Homo sapiens: one gene and its partners. The protein of the gene in region 2 purifies or fractionates together with the protein of the main gene of each other region. This does not show direct contact. Each region holds a gene or a part of one and is shown on either strand. Other genes may lie near its edges.

Region 1 (4,950 bases), on a different chromosome or scaffold from region 2:
CTCTATGCCACCATGTGCTCAGGAATTTGACCCATTTAACTTCAACTGAGGTAGAATTCCTTTTAGCAGTGCCTGCAAAGTGGCATTGTGCCAGGCCTGGGAAACCTTTGCTGGCTTAAAATTTAGTGAAGGACAAGATTATTTCATAGTGATACTAATGTGAGTTTATTGAGACTTACACCCTAGAAGTTTGACTTGTAATAACTCATTTAATCCTTGAAAACAGCTGTGATGGCTGGGCGTGATGGCTCATGCCTGTAATCCCAGCACTTTGGGAGGCCGAGGTGGGTGGATCACCTGAGGTCAGGAGTTCAAGACCAGCCTGACCAACACGGTGAAACCCTGTCTCTACGAAAAATACAAAATTAGCTGGGCGTGGTGGCACATGCCTATAATCCCAGCTACTTGGGAGGCTGAGGCAGGAGAATTGCTTCAATCTGGGAGGTGGAGGTTGCAGTGAGCTGAGATCGCGCCGTTGCACTCCAGCCTGGGCAACAAGAATGAAACTCCATCTCAAAAAACAAAAAACAAAAAGCAAAACAACCGTGATGTCAACAGCTCCATTTTACAGATGAGGAAACTGTGGTCCCGAGAGGTCACAGAGTAACTTGCTTGAAGTCTCAATATGAGCTGGGTTTTCTCATTTCTTTTTTTTTGATACTGAGTCTCACTCTATTGCCCAGGCTGGAGTGCAGTGGCGTGATCTCGGCTCACTGCAACCTCCGCCTCCTGGGTTCAAGTGATTCTTCTCCTGCCTCAGCCTCCCAAGTAGCTTGGACTACAGGTGTGCACCACCACACCCAGCTAATTTTTGTATTTTTAGTAGAGATGGGGTTTCACCATGTTGGCCAGGCTGGTCTTGAACTCCTGACCTCAAGTGATCCGCCCGCCTCGGCCTCCCAAAGTGCTGGGATTACAGGCGTGAGCCACTGTGCCGGACCAGGTTTTCTCATTTCTAATTTAGACAATATGTTCCTCTCAGAGGTGATTAAAATGGATTCATATACCAAACAAGCCTGGCCCACAGTGGAACTAATGAATGTTTTCAGTGAAGGTGCCCTTGTATCCCTGCCTCTGAACACATCTCATCTGTCCAGCACAGCCTGGGCACATAGCAGGTACCCCGGAACCCCCGCTGATTGGTGATGGAGCTTCTGTCTCCCTAAGGCCAGGGAATGGGAAGACCAGCACTACCACATGCAGAAGATTGGGGAGTCACTGCTTGTGTCTGTCTGGACAGATCACGGTTTGCTGTGGTAACAGCAATCCCCAGGTCTCAGAGGCTTAAAGCAACAGAGGTTTATTTCTTGTTCACACTGCATGTTCATCACTTATCTGCTTTATGTTGTCCTCACTGGGGGGACCCATAGTGATTAGTGGGAACACCCCTGGTGGCTTGGACAGAGGGACAGAGAACATGATGATCCCTGTGTCCTGCCACTGAGTCCTGGTGGCCTTTAAGATGCCTATGGGAAGGGGATTAGGTTCCTGCTGCCTGTCTCTGCCCTGCCGTGTCAGTCCTTGGATATCTTGCATGTTCCATCCGCTACCTGGATGTGGCCTGTAGGGGCAGCCACCTTTCCTAGAAGCAGGAGCAGGTAGCGATACCCAGGCAGGCCTGGTCCTCCCCACTTTTGTGGGACTCGGGGATTGAGCTTGCAGGCATAGGGGTGTAGAAAGCAGTGGTAGCGAGGTGACTGAAGGTGGACTCCCACTGGGGATGGGATTGAGTGTGGGGCTAGATCCCTGGTCTGTAGAAGGGAGTAGGAACCCTGTTAGTTAAATTTTCCCCCTCAGGCCACGTTAGTAGGATTTTGAAGAGTCAGCCACACTGTGGCTCTTGATTTTGTGCCTGGTCACCTGCTTGGTCTCTGGTGATTTCCCTCGGGGCCAGCAGACACTGTTGGAGGTGGTGAGGCCTCAGGTTCTTCTGCTTCATGGTTAACTCACTCTGCTTAGGCATATTTCCACCTTTTCCAGGGCCTCCGTTTTTCTGCCAGTGGATTGAGAGGTGGTGGTGGTCTCCAGCAGTGGTCTCACTCTTGGCAGGCTATCAGAGTACCCAGGGAGCTGCGTAGAATGAAGTTTTGAGAGTCTTTGGTCTAGGTGAATGCCAGCGTTTCAGTTTGCTTATCTTCCATTATAGTAGTGTCCTCTGTAACTGTGAATCAGGGAGGTTATTCATAATATCTCCACATCCATTTTCTCCCTTAATTGCGTATGCTTTTGATTTAGACAGGGCAAGTAGCCATTTTGGTGGAGCGCAGGCCCTGGCAGGGGGGCAGTGTCCAGTGCCGCTCTCAATTAAACGTGAAGATGTGAAGATGAATAACACTGTCCAGCTTGCAGAGTGGACGGTGGTGAGGCAAGCTTTCAAGTTGCACCTACTTTCTAGTTGAGTGACCTACACAAGTCTTTGATTTTTTTTTTTTTTCTTCCTGGAAAAAAAAAGTTGTCTACTTTTCTCATCTGTAAAGTGAGAAGAATCAAGTCTGCCTTTTCTGTCTCACGGGGTTGCAGTGAAGCATTAGTACCCTGAGAAGCAAGATCCAAAGCCCCTGAGTTAGGCCTGACACTGGTGTGAGACAGCTGCCATCTCTGGCGGCACTCAGCAAGTGTTCACCAGCAGCTGATTCTGGGAACCTCACTTCCTCCGCCCTTGGGCTTGGTGGGGTTGGGTAGGGTTGGGTGGGGCTGTGGTTTTCTTTTAGGAGGCAGCAGGCCAGGCCTGGAGACCAGAGCTTAAGTGGGCCTGGGCAGGCTGGGGTTGAAACTCTTCACCCCTTGCGGTCTGTACTGCCTCCCAACTGAGCAGCCAGGGAGAAGGCCTAGAGCCTGTGCCTTTCAGCTAGATAGCTGGAGGAACTGGCTCCTCCCTCCTTAGGCTGTGCTGGCCTGAGCTGGGAGCCTGAGAGCTGGGGCAGTTGTCTCTAAAGTGGCTTCTGGGATTCTGGTAAGAGGTGAGCTCCTGGTGCTGCCTCAGAGTCTTTGTGTTTCCTGGCATTTGGGAGAGCTGGAGTTGGGCTGTCCTGCATGGGTAAGGTTTGGGGAGGGACTGGAACAAGGGGCTAGTGAACCTTCTCTGGGTTTTTCCTGCCTGACTATGCGTTGACAGTCCCAGCTGTTGGGCCTGTGCTCCTGTACACTGCACGGCCTTGAGAGGAGTTCGGAGCCCTAACATCCAGGAGAGAGGCCCCACAGCAGTGGAAGGAAATGGGCCTCTCCCGAATCTCTTGTTTGTACCCCGAGGTCTGAGTGGTGATCCTGGGGATGCTATGGGACTCTCAGCAGTAGGAGTGTGTCTGTCCCCAGTCTGGGTGCCCACCAGCTGTGCTGAGGGTCCTCTCCTGTGTCCCTGGGCCAGGCAGACAGGGTCTTTTTCTGGGGCTTGTTAGGGGAGGTCAGCCACAGCCCCAGACCAAGTAATTTACACACCCTGAGTGAGGGGTGGGAGCAGTGGGTCCAGGAAGACTTAGGGAGCTGGTGAAAGAAAAACTTAATTCTGACACTTGTTAAACTGGTAAGGTAGACTGTATCAGGACTATTACGATAGATGTAGGAATTATCGCAATGGATTTTGCAGTAGAGGGGAGAGAGTGGGCCAACTCCAAATACAACAAAGAAAAGTGGGAACTTATAGCCAAGGAGCGGAGTGTGGGGGCTCCTGAAAATTTCTAAGAGGGTAGGGAAATTTTTACTAAACTTAGCTAACTGAATTCTTGCTGCAGGCAGGCCAGGGTGATCAGGTTTTACCTGGGAGATAGTACAGGATGAGAAATACGTTCAGATATCCAGGGTGATTAGATATTGAGGTTGGGGGATTCTGGTTAACAGGAGTTTTGCTAAAACTAGGCTCTTAGAGAGAATGGAGTTAGGAACCCTAGGTCAGGACCAGATGAGTAGAGGGCTCAGAGGAATAAAGTTTGGTGAGGGACAGAATCTCTGTCAGTATCCCGTGGTTGGCAGTGTCCTGTCCATTCTTCTTGCACTGGCCTGTCCCTCAGGAGACAGGTGTGAGTGGTCCTGAGCTTGGGCCAGTGTAAGAGTAGGGGACAGGTTTCTCTCCTTGTAGGTGTCCCTTCTTGTAAGTGTCACTCTCTTTTTTTCCAGAAACCTTGGTCCTTTTCAGCATCTGCTGGCCCCTTGTCCCTTGGCTCCCTTGCTCTTGGCCTGCTGGATTTCCCCTCTGCACCCAGGAAATCGCATGGACCTGGGTCCTTGTTTCCCTACAGCCCACCAATTTTGCTGCTTTTTTCTGCCCCCTGAAGCTGAGCTCCTGCTGCAATTTGTGTTCCCTGCTCTCCCTGTCCTGGGCAAACCAGTCTGACAACTTTGTGGTTCTCGCTCCCGCCTCCATCAGCCTGGGGATTGACTGTCCCATTTGTCTGAGCTGGGCAGAGGGAGGTGCTGTGGGGGATCTCTTCCTCTTGCCTGGACTGCACACTCCTGCTGCCTTCTAGCCGGAGCTCCTGGGCATTTTGCCTATGGGAGCTTCACCAGCTTCCTTCTGTCTGAGGCCTACAAGTCCCTGCCTCCAGCCTACCTTGTTCCTCCTCCATGAGTGAGGCTCCTCCTTTTCTCTCTGGCCCTCCTGTCTACTTGATCAGACTCTGCCTCTCTTGAGGGCCGGCTCCCTCCAGCCTACCCTGCACAGGTGACCCTGTTTGGCCTGCCTCCTTTTCTTGAGGCTGATCTTGTCTCAACAGTCAGCTTTTCAGGAACCAGGCCCTTGCTGTTGTAAGGAAAACCTGTCGGCTGTGGATGGGGCCTTCCCTCCTTCCTAAAGGCTCTGTAGCCAGCTTCCACCCTTGCAGTGGAACAGTGGTGGTGCCAGAACCCTGCTCTCTGCAGCCATCCTGCCTACCACAGTCATTGTGTTTTGTAACTCTAGTAGCTTCTTGTGAAATACAAGTGATGGTATAAACGTGGATAGGTTTTTGAGGGGGGCAT
Region 2 (4,950 bases):
CCAGGTGATTGGCACAGGAGCTAGTTTTGACCACCTTTTCTGTGTGTTCTGTGATCTGACCACTAATAGGTCAGTCAAGTCACTCCAACATGTTTTTTTAATTGACAGATTAAAATTATATATGTTTATGGTGTACCACATGGTGTTTTGAAATATGTATACATTGTTGAATGGCTAAATCAAGCTAATTAACATATCCATTACCTCACATACCTATAATTTTTTGTGCTGAGAATGTCGAAGATCTGTTCTCTTAGCAGTTTCCAAGTATACAATACATGGTTATTAACTATAGTCACAATGTTGTACAATAGATTTCTGGAACTTATTCCTCCAGTCTAACTGAAATTTTGCGTCCTTTGCCTAGCATTCTCCCCTCTCCATCCCCCAGCCTCTGGTAATCACCACTTTACTCTCTGTTTCTATGAGCTCAGCTTTTTGACCTCCCACATGCGAGTGACATTATGTGGTATTTGTCTTTCTGTGCCTGGCTTATTTCACTTAACACTGTCCTCCAGGTTCATCTGTGTTGTCGCAAATGGCAGGATTTTGTTCTTTTTTTTTTATGGCTGAATAGTAGTCTATTGTGTATATATACCATATTTTTTTAATCCATTCATCTGTTGATGGACACGGGTTGATTCCATATCTTGGCCCTTGTGAATAATGCTGCAATGAACATCTACCATCTTTCATCATAATTTTGACAGCCTTTGAAAAGGTGCCACTCTGAAAGAATCTGCACGGGGGTGGAAGTAAACCATTAAGGATCAAAGGGTCTGTCACCTGTGAGGAGACAGAAGAGGAGTCCCCACAGGCAACTTCATGGTGTTTTGGATCACACTGGTCAGTCAGGCTGAGGCGAGGGCCTGCAGGGAGCTGTCTTCTGGGTCACATTCCCTGTGGCAGTAACTTAGTGTCATGGCAGCACTGCACTCAGCGTTCCTAAAAATCATGTGTCAGTCAGTGGAACTTAGAAAATATGAAGTTTAGAAGACAGTAGGTTTGGTTCATCTGTGAGCTAAGGATGCACTTGAAAGGTGGTAGAAGACAGGGCTCCGTTCCCATCTGCCACTTTTGAACTGTGTGGCCAAGTCACTAACTTCTTTAAAGCTCTCCCCTCAGAAATGGGAACTGTGAATAATGATCACAAATATATACACGTGTATGTGTATATGAATATGTGTGTACCTGCATACACACACACACCAGGCACCAGTCTAGGCATTTTAAGTACAGTATATTTTAACTCTTAACCCTCACAATAACATTATGAGCTAGTTACTGTCATCCCCATTTGTATGGGTGAGGCACCAGAGATCTGAGTAATCTACCCAAGGTCAATAGCAAGTAAGTGGCAGAACCAGGATTTGAACACAGTCTGGCTCCAGACCTCAGCTCCTCACCACTGTTCTCTGCTGCCTCACAGTTTGCTGTTCAGGGTTATGGTTCTCCAGTCCCCACACAGTCTCATGCCACACAGGAAGGGTCTTATGTGTTGTGCTTGAAATGGACTTGAGGCTCCATGTAAGAGCCACTGCTGGCTGCTGCCTACAGATAGTTGATGCTCAGTGTTCTGGGGCAGTCTTACCCTATGCACAGCTGGTGCAAATCTGCCCTTTCCACATGAGATGGACTTAGTTGTCCTGCTCTGCACCCACATTGCTGCATCCTGAATTCGACATGAAAGTTTAGATGTGGAGTAATTTGAGCATTCCTTATCTTTTGCATATGATGGTGTAAACACAGTTGGGTGGTGTGTGTCCTTCAGTCAGTTTTTGCTAGGGTGATGTGTGGTGTGGTGTATTAGCACCATGCTCAGGTTCAGGACATCCCCTAGCAGTGTGACAGCATATGAGCCTGTAAAATGAGCAGTCAGAATGGCCAGTGGATTCCTCTCTAGCCCTGGCAGTCCCACAGCCTGTGGATTTCTCTATGGTGTCCACATCACAGTACGATGTACTCCCATGGATGGGCACAAGCAATTAAATACTTGTGAAGATGACATTTGAGGAATTAGGATTTTGAGTTCTTTGCATTTTCTGGTCCACTGAATCATTCTTGGAGAAATCATGATGTTATAAATTCCATTAGAAGTGTAAATCACAAGAAAAGTTCCTTGACCTCAGCAGTTTGTAATCTGTATGTCATAAATGAAAACAATGTTAAATAAAACCAAACTTTGATCAAGGTGATGCAGATAAAGATAATGTTGATAAATGGAGAGTTCTGTTTAGGTAGTATTATTTTTCTCCCAGAAGGCAAAGTGCTATGGAAGAAAAACGTAGCCCTTTATAGGCCGGGTGCGGTGGCTCGTTCCTGTAATCCCAGCACTTTGGGAGGCTGAGGTGGGCAGATCACTTGAGGTCAGGAGTTTGAGACCAGCCTGTCCAACATGGCAAAACCCTGTCTCTACTAAAAAAATGCAAAAATGAGCTGGGTGTGGTGGTATGTTCCTGAATTCCCAGCTATTTGGTTGGCTGAAGCATGAGAAACGCTGGAACCTGGGAGGCAGTTGCAGTGAACTGAGATCGCGCCACTGCACTCCACTTGGGGACAGTAAGACTGTCCAAAAAAAAAACAAAAGAAGAAGAAGAAGAAAAATGTAGCCTTTTCTAAAAGCCTGAACATTCAGGCAGTAAACATTTACTGAGTGCCTACTGCATAAAAGGCAGTGTATTTGGAGCTTGAGGATGAGACTATAAGCAAAGAGTCATTGTGGAGTGGGCTAACTGGCATACAAAAGTGCATAGATGGCTTATGGGAGCACAGAGTATATCCCTTCTGGGGACCCAGGACCAGGTGACATTGAAGAATAAGTGGAAGTTTGTAGTGCATCTCACATCATCACAGTGGCGTGAGACTGTGTGGAGACTGGAGAACCTCGAGTAATCAGGTGTAGAGGAGCTGGGGGAAAGGAGAGGAAGCCACAAGAGGATTCCAACATCAGCTCCTTGGCAGGTATGGAGGAAGCCTTGGGGCAAAGGAGGACAGAACCATGGAGGTGCAGAAATGGATTAAATTGATGCAGTGAACCCCAGAGGAAGGAGGGGTTTTTCTCCCAGTGGAAACAGGACCGTGGCAGAGGCAAGGGGATGCTAGGAGAATGCTGGCTTCCCTCCCACCCTTCTCTGCAGGGACATGGGGTGCTCACTAGGGCAAGATTCACAGTGACACAGGTGAGTTACATGTGGCAGTAGCGAGAATGTCTGTGGGAGAGTTTGAGGATGGGAGTGCTTATTGACCACTGAACACAGATTCCGCAGAAAAAGTCAGAGGAACGGTAAAGTGAGGACATAAATATGTAGGGGGAATGATGACCTGAGGGCCTTGCATTTAGGGCATGGCCAAGGATGACAGGAAGCTGAGCCACTGTGCCACTGATGGGCCTCGAGTTCTGGAATTTACTGTTGGGTGGGGTTTTCCGATACTGTTCCAGTGGGGGTGTTGGAGGTCTGTGGGCTTACTTGGCATTCCAGAGCAATCTTGGTAGGGGGTGGACACTGAGCTTCTTAAGAGATTCTTCTCAGAAGACCTTAACCTCTTGGGGAAACTGACAGCAGACCCCAGTGCCATGGAAGGATCAAGATTCTGGCCGAGGACATTGGGCTTCTGTTCTTGGGAGGTTTTCTTGGGGTGGGAGGTATGAGAAGCGGTGTTTTACAAGTTTTGCAAAAACACTGTTCTAGGATCCTATCCAATGCAACGACTGATTTCTGTCTCTCTAGTCCGGCAGGAGAAGCATTTAATTGTTAAAACAAGAGCAGTCCTTGTCTCATTCCTTTTGTTAATTCTTGCCATGTTACTCTAATTATTTTCCTATCCTGGCCTTTCTGTCTCTCGTTCAGAACCAGACTACCAGGTGTACCTGAATGCTTCCAAGGTCCCCGGGTTTGCGGATGACCCCACAGAGCTGGCATGCCGGGTGGTGGACACGAAGAGTGGGGAGGCGAATGTCCGATTCACGGTTTCGTGGTACTACAGGATGAACCGGCGCAGCGACAATGTGGTGACCAGCGAGCTGCTTGCAGTCATGGACGGGGACTGGACGCTAAAATATGGAGAGAGGAGCAAGCAGCGGGCCCAGGATGGAGACTTTATTTTTTCTAAGGAACATACAGACACGTTCAATTTCCGGATCCAAAGGACTACAGAGGAAGACAGAGGCAATTATTACTGTGTTGTGTCTGCCTGGACCAAACAGCGGAACAACAGCTGGGTGAAAAGCAAGGATGTCTTCTCCAAGCCTGTTAACATATTTTGGGCATTAGAAGGTAGGAACTTTTTTCTTGTTATTCATTTTTGTTTTGTCTTTGCTTAAGTCGTGCCGCTGTGTGTTGATGCACAGTCACCCTCTGCAGGTTATCACTTACACTAGGAATGTGTGTCCTGGACATTGATCGCCATGCGACCCGTTGCACATGCTCTTTGGACTCACTATCACCCCTCCTCTGTCCCCAAGCCCCAGAGAGGTCCCTCTCCAACTCACTGTCAATCAGCCAAGTCTCTTGTTTCCTGAACTTTACCTCTGAATGTTTCTTTTCTCTTTCTTGCATTAAACATGGTGACTCTGAGGACACTCTTTCCCCTGGAGAAACCGTTACCTCTCTGAGGACAGTTTCCCCCAGAGCCCAACTAAGTGATGCCCATTTTCTTCCCACACTTCTCATAACTGGGCCTAGAGGTGTGGGGCAGGTGCCCTTCTTGATCCTCCCTGCAGCTTCCAGGTCGTTTTCGCTCACTCCTAAAAATATCTAGCTTCGAATCTCGTGTCATCATCACACCATACCACCTCTTCTTGTTACTATTGCCTGTTGCCTCCTAGGTCCTCCGTTCATTCTTTGAAGATGTTAGCGTTTGTTTCACGGCCACTCTGTCTGACACTGCTCCCATCTTGCTAACTTCAGTATCTGTGTAGAGCACTGGGTCACAATTGGAAGCCCCCTAGGA
Region 3 (5,739 bases), on a different chromosome or scaffold from region 2:
AGCTGGGCCTGTTGCAGAGGCCCCGGGTCTGTGGTTGTCTGCCTCTTCTTAGGGCAGCATCAGGGGCGAGGGGAGCAACACATCCCACACCACTCACTCCATGTTTACCTCTGGGCTTCCCCTCCCAGCTCCTCAGACCCCGGCTTAGTGGAGGGGAAGCGGGTGGGTAGGGCAGTTCCTGCTGAGATTAAACGGGTCCTGTCCCACAGAGGGGCCCAGGCCAAACAGTCCAGGCTCTTCCCTCCCTTCCCACCTCTCACAGAGCCAGCTCCTGGCCGTTTGATGTTCTTGATTAAGTCATAACCGCCCCCTGTGAGCTTCCCATGGGGCAGAGGAAGTGGGTATAACGGTTTGGAGCAGAAGGCCAAGGCCAAGGTCAAGCCAGAATCAGGGGTGCCAGCTGGCCCCAGATGCTCCGAATCTGAAACAACACTCAGAACTTGGGGCTGCTCAGCCATGGGTTGAGGGAGGACTGTCTGGTCCTTAGGGGAACAGGTTTGGGTCCCCAGGGTGGAAGGGGATGGCCGGTGGGAGCTTCCAGGCTGTGGCTCTAAAGCGTGAGGCCTCAAGACAGAGGGGGCCGCCCCCACATAGCGGAAACTTCAGAGGAGCCCAGGGAAGCCAAAATCCTGCCCCAGTCCCCCTACTGTGGGAAACTTGTGCCCTGACTGCTCACCCACTGCCAGAGATAGCACATGGCTGACCTCTCACCCCTATCCTCCCTGGGCTGGGATGGGAGGGAGGGATCAGCAGGCACTTCTTCTAACCATCCCGCCCCCGACCCCCAAACTTACTGCTGGCTGGCACAGGCTCCCACCTTTCGGCCCAGATGCCTCCCCTTCATGGGCAAACCCCTCTGTAGCATTCATCACCCTCCCAGCAACCCCGCCACTCACCCAATCCAGCCACCTTCCTGAGACCCTGCTATGTACCAGACAGGATAGGGAGGAGAAAGAAGTGCAAATGTGCTGGAACAGTCCCCTCCCACCCCTCCAATGGTGCCTTTGCTCTCCCTGTGGCTGGTGTCTCTTCCTTCACTCCCAGTTGCAGACATCCCCAAAGCCACCCAGACCCCTTCTTCCCAGTCACTGCAGCCATTGGTTCATTATCCCTTGACCGCTGGATCCTCCACCCCAGCACATCTGGTACAGACTGACTTTCCTAAAGTGCTGCTCTGTTGTGTCACTCCTCTCCTCAGAAACCTTCAGTGGCTCCCACTTTCTGCAAATCAGATCCAAAGTTCTTATCCTGTCATTCAAGGCCCTCCGTAAGCTGATCCCACCTACTATTCCCACTGCATATCCCCACACGTTCCCAAACTTCAGCCAGAATGAGCAACCTAGAGGTTTCTCGAGAATTCTCAGGACAGGTTGACCTCCCTGCCTCTGCCTAGGCATTTTCCTCTCCTCAAGACACTATCTTCATTCTGGCTGCCGAAATCTTCCCAGTCTGTAAGGCCCTGAAGATCCCTCTAATCCTTTTTTCATTTATCTTCCATCAGAGTCCCTGGTATTCTTGTGTAAGCCCCTTCCCGGATGGTAAGCAACCTGAGGGTGCAGGCCTTATGTGGTCGCTTGTCATTCATCGAGCAGGAAGTGGGGGTGGTGGTGGGGAGGGCTTTCCATTAAGGCTCACTAGGTAGGCTCTGTTGAAATGAACGTCTCCTCCTCCCCACCTCAGGCACCACCTACCAGACCCTCTCCCTCCCCACCATACCAAACTCCAATTTATGCCACTTCAGTGCTTGAAGAGACTGTGGTCCCATGTTGATCCAAGCCAAACCAGGACCAGGAGCCCAGAGAGAAAGTCCTATTCAAGTCTCACCCCCTCCAGGAAGCCTCCTTACCCCCACCCCCTGCCCTGGCTTCTCAAGTGTCTCACTCTTCTGAACACCTCCCCCTGCCCTACATACACACACAGTCTCCTGCACACAGCGCAGCCGCCAGTCCGTCTCTGTCCCACAGCACTTTCCAGTTTGTTCCATACTGTACAGCTTATCTCCCAGAAGATGCAGGGAGCCAATATAATGCAGCACCTTCAGCGTCCTTCAGTGTCCAACCCTGCTTAGATATCGGGTGCCCACATTGCCCCTCGCCCCCATCCCAAGCCAAGTGTGCAATGGTATAGCTGGATTCCAGCCACCAGGGCAGAACAGACCCATGAAATCTCATCTGGTTATAAGCCCTGGGTGTGACTGATCCTCTCTACAGGGACATGGTAGGGATGGGGGAGCCCTCATTGTCAGCAACTCAGGCCTGGCTAGTTCACCTCTGTATCCTCTAGCTCTCTCTAGCATATAGTAGGTGCTCAGTAAACATTTTTAGACTTATTTAACTCAACACTTACCAACCTCAAGCAACATTACAGAAAACTCAGCCACTCTTTGTTCCAGATGACACAGTCCTCATCCCTCAAATAGAGTGATGTTGGTGGCAGGTGGCAATTTCTGGCTTTCACAAGGTCAGGAGGGGCTGTAGCCAACCCCATCTCTCCAAGAAAAAAAAAAGGCTCATTCCCCATAGGAAGCAAGCCCATCACCTGCCCACCCGCATCAAAGCAGCTGTCACAGAGGGAGGTCTCACTGGTTTCCTGGCACCTTGCTAAGTAGTGTATACACATTATTCTATTTAGTGCTTGCTCCTGCTATTGGATATTGTCATTATCCCCATTTTACAGGTGAGGAAACTGAAGTTTGGAGGGGGAATGGAATCCAAATCAGTTTGATCCCAAAGCCCAAGCCTTGACCACAGAACTATGCTGCCCCGCTACTGGGGCCCAGCACAGAGCACCCACCACCTCCAGGAACAGAACCCGTCAGCCAAGAAATTAACCCCGGGTATGCTTCAAGGGCCCCTGGGGCCCTGGGCTTGACCCTGGGCCCAAGGATTGGTGGGGTTTTCCCTTCTCTTCCCCACTCACCAGTGTAAGAACTGTTCCCCAGTTTCCAACCTCCTGCTCAGGCCAGCTCACCTGGAAAAGCCCCACTGAGTTTCCAACTTGAAGTCTTAGGGGGTCCGGCTCAGTTGAACTGTTAGAATTGGTGGGAAGCAGGTGAGGCGGGAAATGGAACCTCCCTGCTTTGGCCTCCTCTTCCCCAGGGTTGGTGGGTTCGAGCCCCAACCGAGGAAACAGTGCACTCTTTAAAGCAATTCGCTTCTCTCAGTCCCATTTTGCAGGGAGAGAAACTGCAGAGGGCAACGCGATGGGAACACCTGTGGCGACCTGCAGCCTGCTCTCACCTGCCAGCTCTCACCTTCCGGCGTTTTAAGTGAGAAAGGGCAACGGGAGCGTGGAATTCACCTGGTTCACTTCCTCCTGCTGGAACCCGGGAGGTCCAGAGCCAGGTAGAGGGACGGACCCAGGATCACGCAGCTGTGCACGGCCGAGTGTGAGAACTGGGGGTTCAGGACTGGTGGCTAAAGCTCCTTTTCACCCACCAGCTGCCCCGACCTGTCACTAGTTCCGAGGAAAGTTGTCCGAGCCGGACCGCAGAAGCGGGGGCTAAAACTAACTTTGCCTATGGTTGTCCGGCAGGCTACCCCGGCCCGCTGCCCCCTTGCTCACCTGCGGGTTCTGCTTTCTGCTCCGCGCTGCAGGCCCAGCGTCACCCGCTCGTGCCTCAGTCGGCGTCGGACTGCACAGCCCGGGGCTCAGTCACTCCTCGGCCCCCTCCCGGCTGCAGCCGGGGAACGCCGCGGACTCGGCAGGCCCCGCCCCCAGAAGACACGCCCCCTCCGCCGGCCCCGCCCCCGAGCCCTTTGGGAAGGCGGTGCGCTCCCGCCGGCCAGGCCCCGCCCACTATGGCCGTACCCCAACCAGCCTCGCCCCCGGGCCCAGCTGGAGCTGAGGCCCCGCCCCGCTACGGAGTCTCTCCTCTATCCCGGCAGCCCCGCCCCCAGGTTACACTGGGGATTAAGCCCGCCCCGCTCCAGCCCTGTCCACTCACGGCGCTGCCTAACGGTCCCGCCCAGCTCCCGCCTACCTCGTCCTCCCGGTCTCCTCCCGGGCCCTCCCAGCGCCCCCGCCTCCTTCACTTTCTCCTTCGAGCCCACCCCATCCCCCGGCCCTAGTAGGGTGAGGCCACGCCCCTCCCCGCACCAGCCTGGGCTCAGCGCCTTCCTAATCCTGCCCTGCCCTGCCCCTCTCATCTCGGGCGGGTAGCCCTGGGGCCCCCACGCTGGCATTCCAGGGCGGGTGTATCCGGGTGCCGCCGGGGAACGGCGTGGGAGCGGTTTGTGTCCTAAGTCGGGGCCTCTATCAGGAGGCGGCCTGGGCCCAGGAACTTTTTGAAAATACTGACTACCATTGATTGAATCCTTGCCAGGGGCCAGGCTCTATGCCAAGCGCTGAATACAGTTCTAGCCCTTGAATTCCCACAACTCATGGGTACTCTCGTTGCGCCTATTTTACTAATGCGCAGTTTAAGGCTCAGAGAAGGGAAGTCGAGGGCTCTGAATCTCATGGAGGCGGGCGTGAGCGGGATCCAGCCTCAGGTCCTGAGTCACAGGCTTGAGCTGCCCCAGCTTGCCTGGACTGGCCCCTGGGGAAGTAGCCCAGAACAACCAGTGCTGGGGCAGTGCCCAGCAGCTGCCTGAGGTGAGGGAGGAGGTGTGGGTTGATGAGAATAGTGGCAGGAGGGGCTGTGGGCCTAAGCCCTCAAAGCTGGCTTTCTCCCTGAAGAAAAAGTGGCCCAAAATTGAGGTGGGCTGCAAGAGCTCTCTAGGTGGCTGCGGTGCCCACCCTGCGTCCCAGCCCTCTGCCCTCCCAGGCTCCAGAGGACTAGCCTCAGGCAGATTACCTGGTTAATGACCAGGGGCATTCACCTGTGCAGCTGACAAAGCTCTTTCACTTCCATTATCACAATGTCCTCTCACAACACACCGTTGTGGGAGGGTATGATTATGAGCGCTTTGTACGAGTGGAGTAAGGGCGGGAGCTGGATCCCAGCCCAGCACTGTAGTTCTCACAGCGTGGTCCTTGAACCAGGAGCAACATCATCTGGGAACTTGTTAGGAGTGCGTATTTTGAAGCCCCATCCCAACTTACTGAATGGAAAACTGTGGGACAATTGGTTTTAATAAGGCCTCCAGGTGATTCTGAATCACATTCAAGCATGAACCACTGTTGAGCAAACTGTAAAGAAGTCAGGGTGGTCTGAGAATCACACAGACCTAGGTAGCTTCCTGGTTGCGTTTTAAACCCAGGACAAGGCAAGATACTTAACCTCTGGGATGAGCCCTTAAACAGGGAATAATAATAAAATGAGCCATAACAATCATACCGATCTTGATGGTAGCTGTTGAAGATTACATGTGACAGCATTCATAAAGTATTTGGCCCACCGCTTGAATGCCGTACATGCTCAGAAAATGTTCTCTTTTCAGCAAAAAGTCTCCTTCATAGCATTCCCACACCAAGTCAGAAAAGTGAGGCTGGAGAATCCTTTAAACCCAGCAGTGTGTCATACCCGCAGAGAGACACCCTCTATCCTGCAAGTGGTTAAGATCCTAACAAGCTCCTAGATGATGTGGATGCTGGTCCGGGGACCACACTTTGAGAACCACTGTGCCATTCTGTCTTGGGCTGGGTTTCAGATCCCTACCCTACCCAGCCCATGCAAAATGGGCATAAAATTCCTCCTATTCCACCCTACTCCACACCCCGCTCCCTCCGAGCTGGGGGTGTTTGTGATGGTGTATGGCAGATGCTCCTGACAGCAATAACTTGACTTAAGCATAC
Region 4 (5,195 bases), on a different chromosome or scaffold from region 2:
TCAAGACAGTGAAAAGATAACTCCTAGTATCTAGAAAAATAAAGAACTTTAAAAAGTCAACAATAAAAAGACAAACAACTTAAAAATGGGCAGCCAGGCATGGTGACTTGTCCCTGTAATCCCAGCTGCTTGGGAAGCAGAGGCAGGAGCCTGCACTGAGCTATGATCACGCCACTGTACTCCAGCCTGGGCAACAGAGCAAAACCCAGTCCCTTAAATTATTAAAAAACAAACAAACAAACAAAAATACGGGCAGAGGATCTGAACAGACATTTCTCTAAAGATTAAAATTGCTAATAAAGGCCGAGGCGGGTGGATCATGAGGTCAGGAGATCGAGACCATCCTGGCTAACAAGGTGAAACCCCGTCTCTACTAAAAATACAAAAAATTAGCCGGGCGCGGTGGCGGGCGCCTGTAGTCCCAGCTACTCGGGAGGCTGAGGCAGGAGAATGGCGTGAACCCGGGAAGCGGAGCTTGCAGTGAGCCGAGATTGCGCCACTGCAGTCCGCAGTCCGGCCTGGGCGACAGAGCGAGACTCCGTCTCAAAAAAAAAAAAAAAAAATGGCTAATAAGCACATGAAAAGATGCCAACGTCAGTAGTCATTAAGGAAATGCAATTCAAAGCCACATATTTCATACTCGTTAAAGCGGTTAGAATAAAAAAGACAGACAATAACAAGTATCGGCAAGGATGTGGAGAAAACGAAACCCTCATATGTTGCTAATGGAAATGAAAATGTTGCAACCTCTTTGGGAAACAATTTAGCAGTTTCTCAAAAGTTAAATATAGTGCTACCATATGAGTCAGCAATTCTACTCCTAGAGGAGTACCCAAAAGAATTGAGAAAGTGTTTACCCAAAAACTTGTATGCTCATGTTCATAGCAGAATTATTCATAATTGCCAAAATGTGAGAGCAATGCAAATACACATCAACTGAGGAGTAGATAAACAAAATGGGGCATATCCATGCCATGGAATATCATTCAACCATCAAAAGGAATAAATTAATAGCACATGTATATGAACCTTGAAAATATTTTGCTACATGAAAAAGACAGCCACAAAAGCCCCATATTATATGATTCCCTTGATATGAAATGTCCAGAAGAGGCAAATCCACAGAGGCAGGAAGTAGATTAGTGGTTGCTAGGTCTGTAGGGATGGTGGGATGGGAATGACTGCTCACAGGTACAGGGTTTCTTTTTGGGGTAATGAAATGTTCTGTGATTAGATAGTGGTGATAGTTGCATAGCTTTGTGAATATACTAAAAGCCCCTGAATTATACACATTTCAAGGATGCTTTTTACCACATATGAATTACATCTTAAATTTCAAAAATCAATGATTTAAAAAAATGGGACACAGTGGCCAGGGAAACAAGTTACAAGTGTCACTGTTTCACTCACATTTTCTTCCTTTCTCAGATATTTGGGATATGCCTGGCCCAGAATTTGGTTAGCGATATCGAAGCTGTCAGGGCGAGCTGGTAGACCCCCTGCAACCGCTGCTGCAAGACACTGGACAGACCCAGCTTTCGGGACCCTCCCGCGTGCCGAACTGATCTTCGAGCTGCATGGACCTAATCACAGATGCAGCCTGCAGTCTCGCCTAATGGAGCTGCCATTAGGGGAGTGTAAAACTGGGAAATGCTGCTCACTGACAGAATTAAAAAAAAAAATAACCAGTATGAAAGTCGTTGCGCCGTGAATCTCTACTGTAGCCATGAATTTATGGACAGTTAGATGCTTACCAAAAAAGAAAAAAAGGGAGGGTAGGGGACCCAGATGTACTTGAATGTGCAGAAAATACATTCTTGTCCTCATCTTCCGTAATTGGAGGGCTGGGAGAGGCAGCTTTGCTCTTCACCACACCTTGGACGGACCACCTTCTTTCTGTTCCATGGCCTGAAGGAGTGCATCTCCTCAAAGACTCAGCCCCTCACCTGGGAGGGCAGTGGTTTGTGGGCATCCCTCCATGTACATTTTAGGAAACACTTGCAACTCTCATCTGAAGAAGAAAACAACTCATCTTTGGGTTCAGATTTTGTGATGGTATTCAGCAAGTCACTTGGGCGAGCACACTTGGTCTATCCTGGAAAGTCTCCTTATAAGAGAAGTTGTGTATTTCATGTGCACCGAGCAAGGGCATTGGAAGACGTCATGAGGCTGTATTTTAGCAGGACTGATCGTTTTTCTAAGTAGACCTGAGCTTTGTTTATCAGTGAAATTCAAGGAGAAAATGAGGTTAATGAAGAGGTATCAGTTAAATATCCCCTTCTTCTCACCCTGCCAAAATTAGCAGTTGGATTTTTGGAAACTCTGGAATATTCTGGGTCATTTTGTTTTGTATGTTTGTTGTTTTTCGTCTTCCAAAGGTGAAAGCTATGATACAGTTCCACTTAAATTTTAGTGTTTTCTTACTCAGCTCAAGCATTAATTTTTGATTAAGTCTTAATCTGCATGACCTGTGAATCTGAATCCATCATCTCCCTTTCCTGCCAGCTTTTCTACAAACATTGAAATATGTTATTTGGTCAGCACTTATTTCCTAGGTTCACAGCCTTGGGAGGTTGTGGCATGTCCTCCCAGTCTGGCTGGGAAGAGACCAGCTGTACCATCCAAATGCTTCCCTGGTCTTGATGATCTCTTCCAGAGTCGATCTGAGTGGCCTTTTCTGCACCCTCCCCTTCTTTCTCTTTGAATGGAATTAAACCCAATTTGGAAACAACATTGACCCAGTCAAAAGCTTCTAATGGTTTCTTTTTCTTCCTCCAGTTTTAGTTTGCTTTTATTAAAAAAAGAAAATAGTGCATGGCCATAGCTCCTTCAGTTCTCTTATTGCAGACTAACCATCAGGATGGTATCAAAGCACAAATACTTTGGAGGGGAATGCGTTGAACTGGGGCAAGTACTCTGTAACACAAAGTGGGAAACCACTTCCTGGTGCTGCCGCTCCTGCCCCCACTTTAGGTGGGAGGGACGAGTTTTGCCCTCTAGATTTTAATCCAGCTGGTGTCCACCGGATGTTGCCCTCCTGGGGAGCAGATATCAGTCTGTGGAACTCTGGGAAAACCACAGGCACATTTTTCGGTGCGGACAGATTTGCCAGCACATAACTGGGCAGCCAGCTAGAATACTTTGTGGAAATTAAGCGAGGTTTTCCATTTCAGCCCCATGGTGCATGGTGGTGGCCGATGAATGTGTCAGTCTGCTCAGAGAAAGGACAAAAAGGAAATTATTTTCAAAACTGTGTTCACTGTTTGGGTGTGTGTATGGCTCTGCATGTGTGTGTTTTTGTCTCTGTATAGGTAGAGGTATTCACATCTTACTCCGACTGTAAGGTTGTCTTACTTCATCTCTGCCCCCACCACAGTTGCCATTTTGTAATGTCCTTCCAACATGGAGAAGACACGAGCTCTCTCCAGTTGGCATCATTTGTCTTTTTTGTTGATTGCCTCATTCTCCAGTGAACTCCATCTGGCCAATTGATTCAGAATCAGGCAAGATCCCTGCCCTTTGGCACATCCACTGAAAGGCCAAACAGCAAGTCCGAGTGAGTTTTAAATATTAATTAATCACCCTTTATTTTTTACACTTGAGAGTGATTGTAATAAAGGCTGTCATTAATAAACTTGGTTCTACCTTACATGGTGTGTCTTTCTTCATTACTTCTTTCTTGAAATTGTGAAATTTTCGAATCCAGTGGTTCTCAAACTTTAGCAGGTGTCAGAATCACTGGGAGGACTTGTTAAAACACATGAATGCATTTGCTCCGTGCCCATAATTTCTAACTTAGTAGGTCTGGGGTGGGGCTGGAGAATTTGTATTCTGATAAGATCGTAGGTGATGCTGTTTGCGGCTTGTTTGGGGACTACACTTTGAGAAGCATTGTTCTGATCCAGTTTTCTAGGAGGGGAAACAGAAAGGTAAGATTTTGTAGTTGGGAAGGGAAAGGTTCCTTTGTACTTAAAAATGCTGACTGACAAGACACAGAGGCCAGAGCCTCGTATGTAGGAAATCCCTGCCCATGAGGTCATCTGCTGGTTACAATCACTTGGGGACCATGTGAAATACAGATTCCCCAGACCTTACCCCTAGCAGTTCTGGAGTGGGAGACAGGGTAATCTATGTTTTAAAAGCTCCCTTGAAAATTTAATGCCTGGTGGGATTTATGACTTATGGGCTTAGATAAATGTTGATAATATTCACAACCTTTTATATAAGAAAATAATTTCTCACAGTCCCTTGGAGCTGGAATCTTAAAAACCCATTAGAGAAACGTCAGCTTAAATGTCTTTCATTGTGAATTATCACTGCAGAAGAAGACTTCCGTCGTTAGAACTGATTAAATACTTTTTTCAAAGATCAAATGAAAACAAATTTTAAGGTTCATATAGCACACTTAGATCCTGACAACATAGTGTCAGACTTGTTCAAGAAACGTTTTGCCTCATATCTCAGATATTTGAAACAACGTTATTTTGATTTTAAGGAAATTTATCAGTGATGATTGGAGATGGCCAATCCCTGCTTCTTGAGTTTTCTTATTGTCTACATTGGCCCTCTTTGCTTGTTGCAAACTATAAGCCAACAAAGGAAAAAAAAATGACAGCTCAGAAGTAAAAGGATGCTTTGTCTATAAAACTCAAAAACTTGGAGGAAGTTTCTTCAATGTGTAGAAGGTAGACTTTAGGGGAAGCTTATTAAATTTCTCTTTATTTCTGTTGTTGGGCTGGTTACCACTAACATCATTGCTCCTATAATTTAAAAATATACAGTTTTTAAATGTGAACTCAGGAATTTAAAAATATTTTGCATCATGAAGTACTTAAAGAAGTGCATTTCCTTTGTTCTTCCTCTTCCTTCTCCCAGGGAGTAATAAACCTGGACTTTTCTTTCAGCCTTCTTCCTGCCACAGGTCCCAGTTGTCCTTTCCTCAAGGGGATCCTCAAAGTGTCTCTTGGAGGTTTCTTGTGCAAAGTGATCATTCATTTCCCCGTGTTTGTGTGGGCAGGAATGGAGTGATTTTGCAGTTTCGTCTGTTTCCGGCTGGCTTGGACAGGCGCCCTGGGAAGCCTGTGGGCTGAACAATGAGGAGCTGGAGCCCAGTGACCTGGCAGGCCACCCCAACTCCCTTTGTCATTTATTCCACGAAGCCCTCCTTCTCTAGGGAAATCCTGTTTAGACCTCCA

The links.
Region 1: the proteins of PTGFRN (region 2) and TSPAN14 purify together in Homo sapiens (co-immunoprecipitation; one large-scale study listed by IntAct). This does not show direct contact.
Region 3: the proteins of PTGFRN (region 2) and CD82 purify together in Homo sapiens (affinity purification with western blotting, with the first as the bait; one study listed by BioGRID). This does not show direct contact.
Region 4: the proteins of PTGFRN (region 2) and TSPAN5 purify together in Homo sapiens (co-immunoprecipitation; one large-scale study listed by IntAct). This does not show direct contact.

What each region holds. Positions count from the first base shown.
Region 1 is NC_000010.11:80,456,548-80,461,497, forward strand, and holds part of TSPAN14 (tetraspanin-14), read left to right. Parts: intron 1-2,737; exon of another isoform or gene 2,738-3,037; intron 3,038-4,950. UniProt on the Homo sapiens protein: Part of TspanC8 subgroup, composed of 6 members that interact with the transmembrane metalloprotease ADAM10.
Region 2 is NC_000001.11:116,957,395-116,962,344, forward strand, and holds part of PTGFRN (prostaglandin F2 receptor negative regulator precursor), read left to right. Parts: intron 1-3,848; coding exon 3,849-4,274; intron 4,275-4,950. UniProt on the Homo sapiens protein: Inhibits the binding of prostaglandin F2-alpha (PGF2-alpha) to its specific FP receptor, by decreasing the receptor number rather than the affinity constant. Functional coupling with the prostaglandin F2-alpha receptor seems to occur.
Region 3 is NC_000011.10:44,563,562-44,569,300, reverse strand, and holds the start of CD82 (CD82 antigen), read right to left. Parts: upstream 3,639-5,739; 5' UTR 3,565-3,638; exon of another isoform or gene 2,971-3,564; intron 1-2,970. UniProt on the Homo sapiens protein: Structural component of specialized membrane microdomains known as tetraspanin-enriched microdomains (TERMs), which act as platforms for receptor clustering and signaling.
Region 4 is NC_000004.12:98,468,821-98,474,015, reverse strand, and holds the end of TSPAN5 (tetraspanin-5), read left to right. Parts: intron 1-1,428; coding exon 1,429-1,494; 3' UTR 1,495-3,649; downstream 3,650-5,195. UniProt on the Homo sapiens protein: Part of TspanC8 subgroup, composed of 6 members that interact with the transmembrane metalloprotease ADAM10.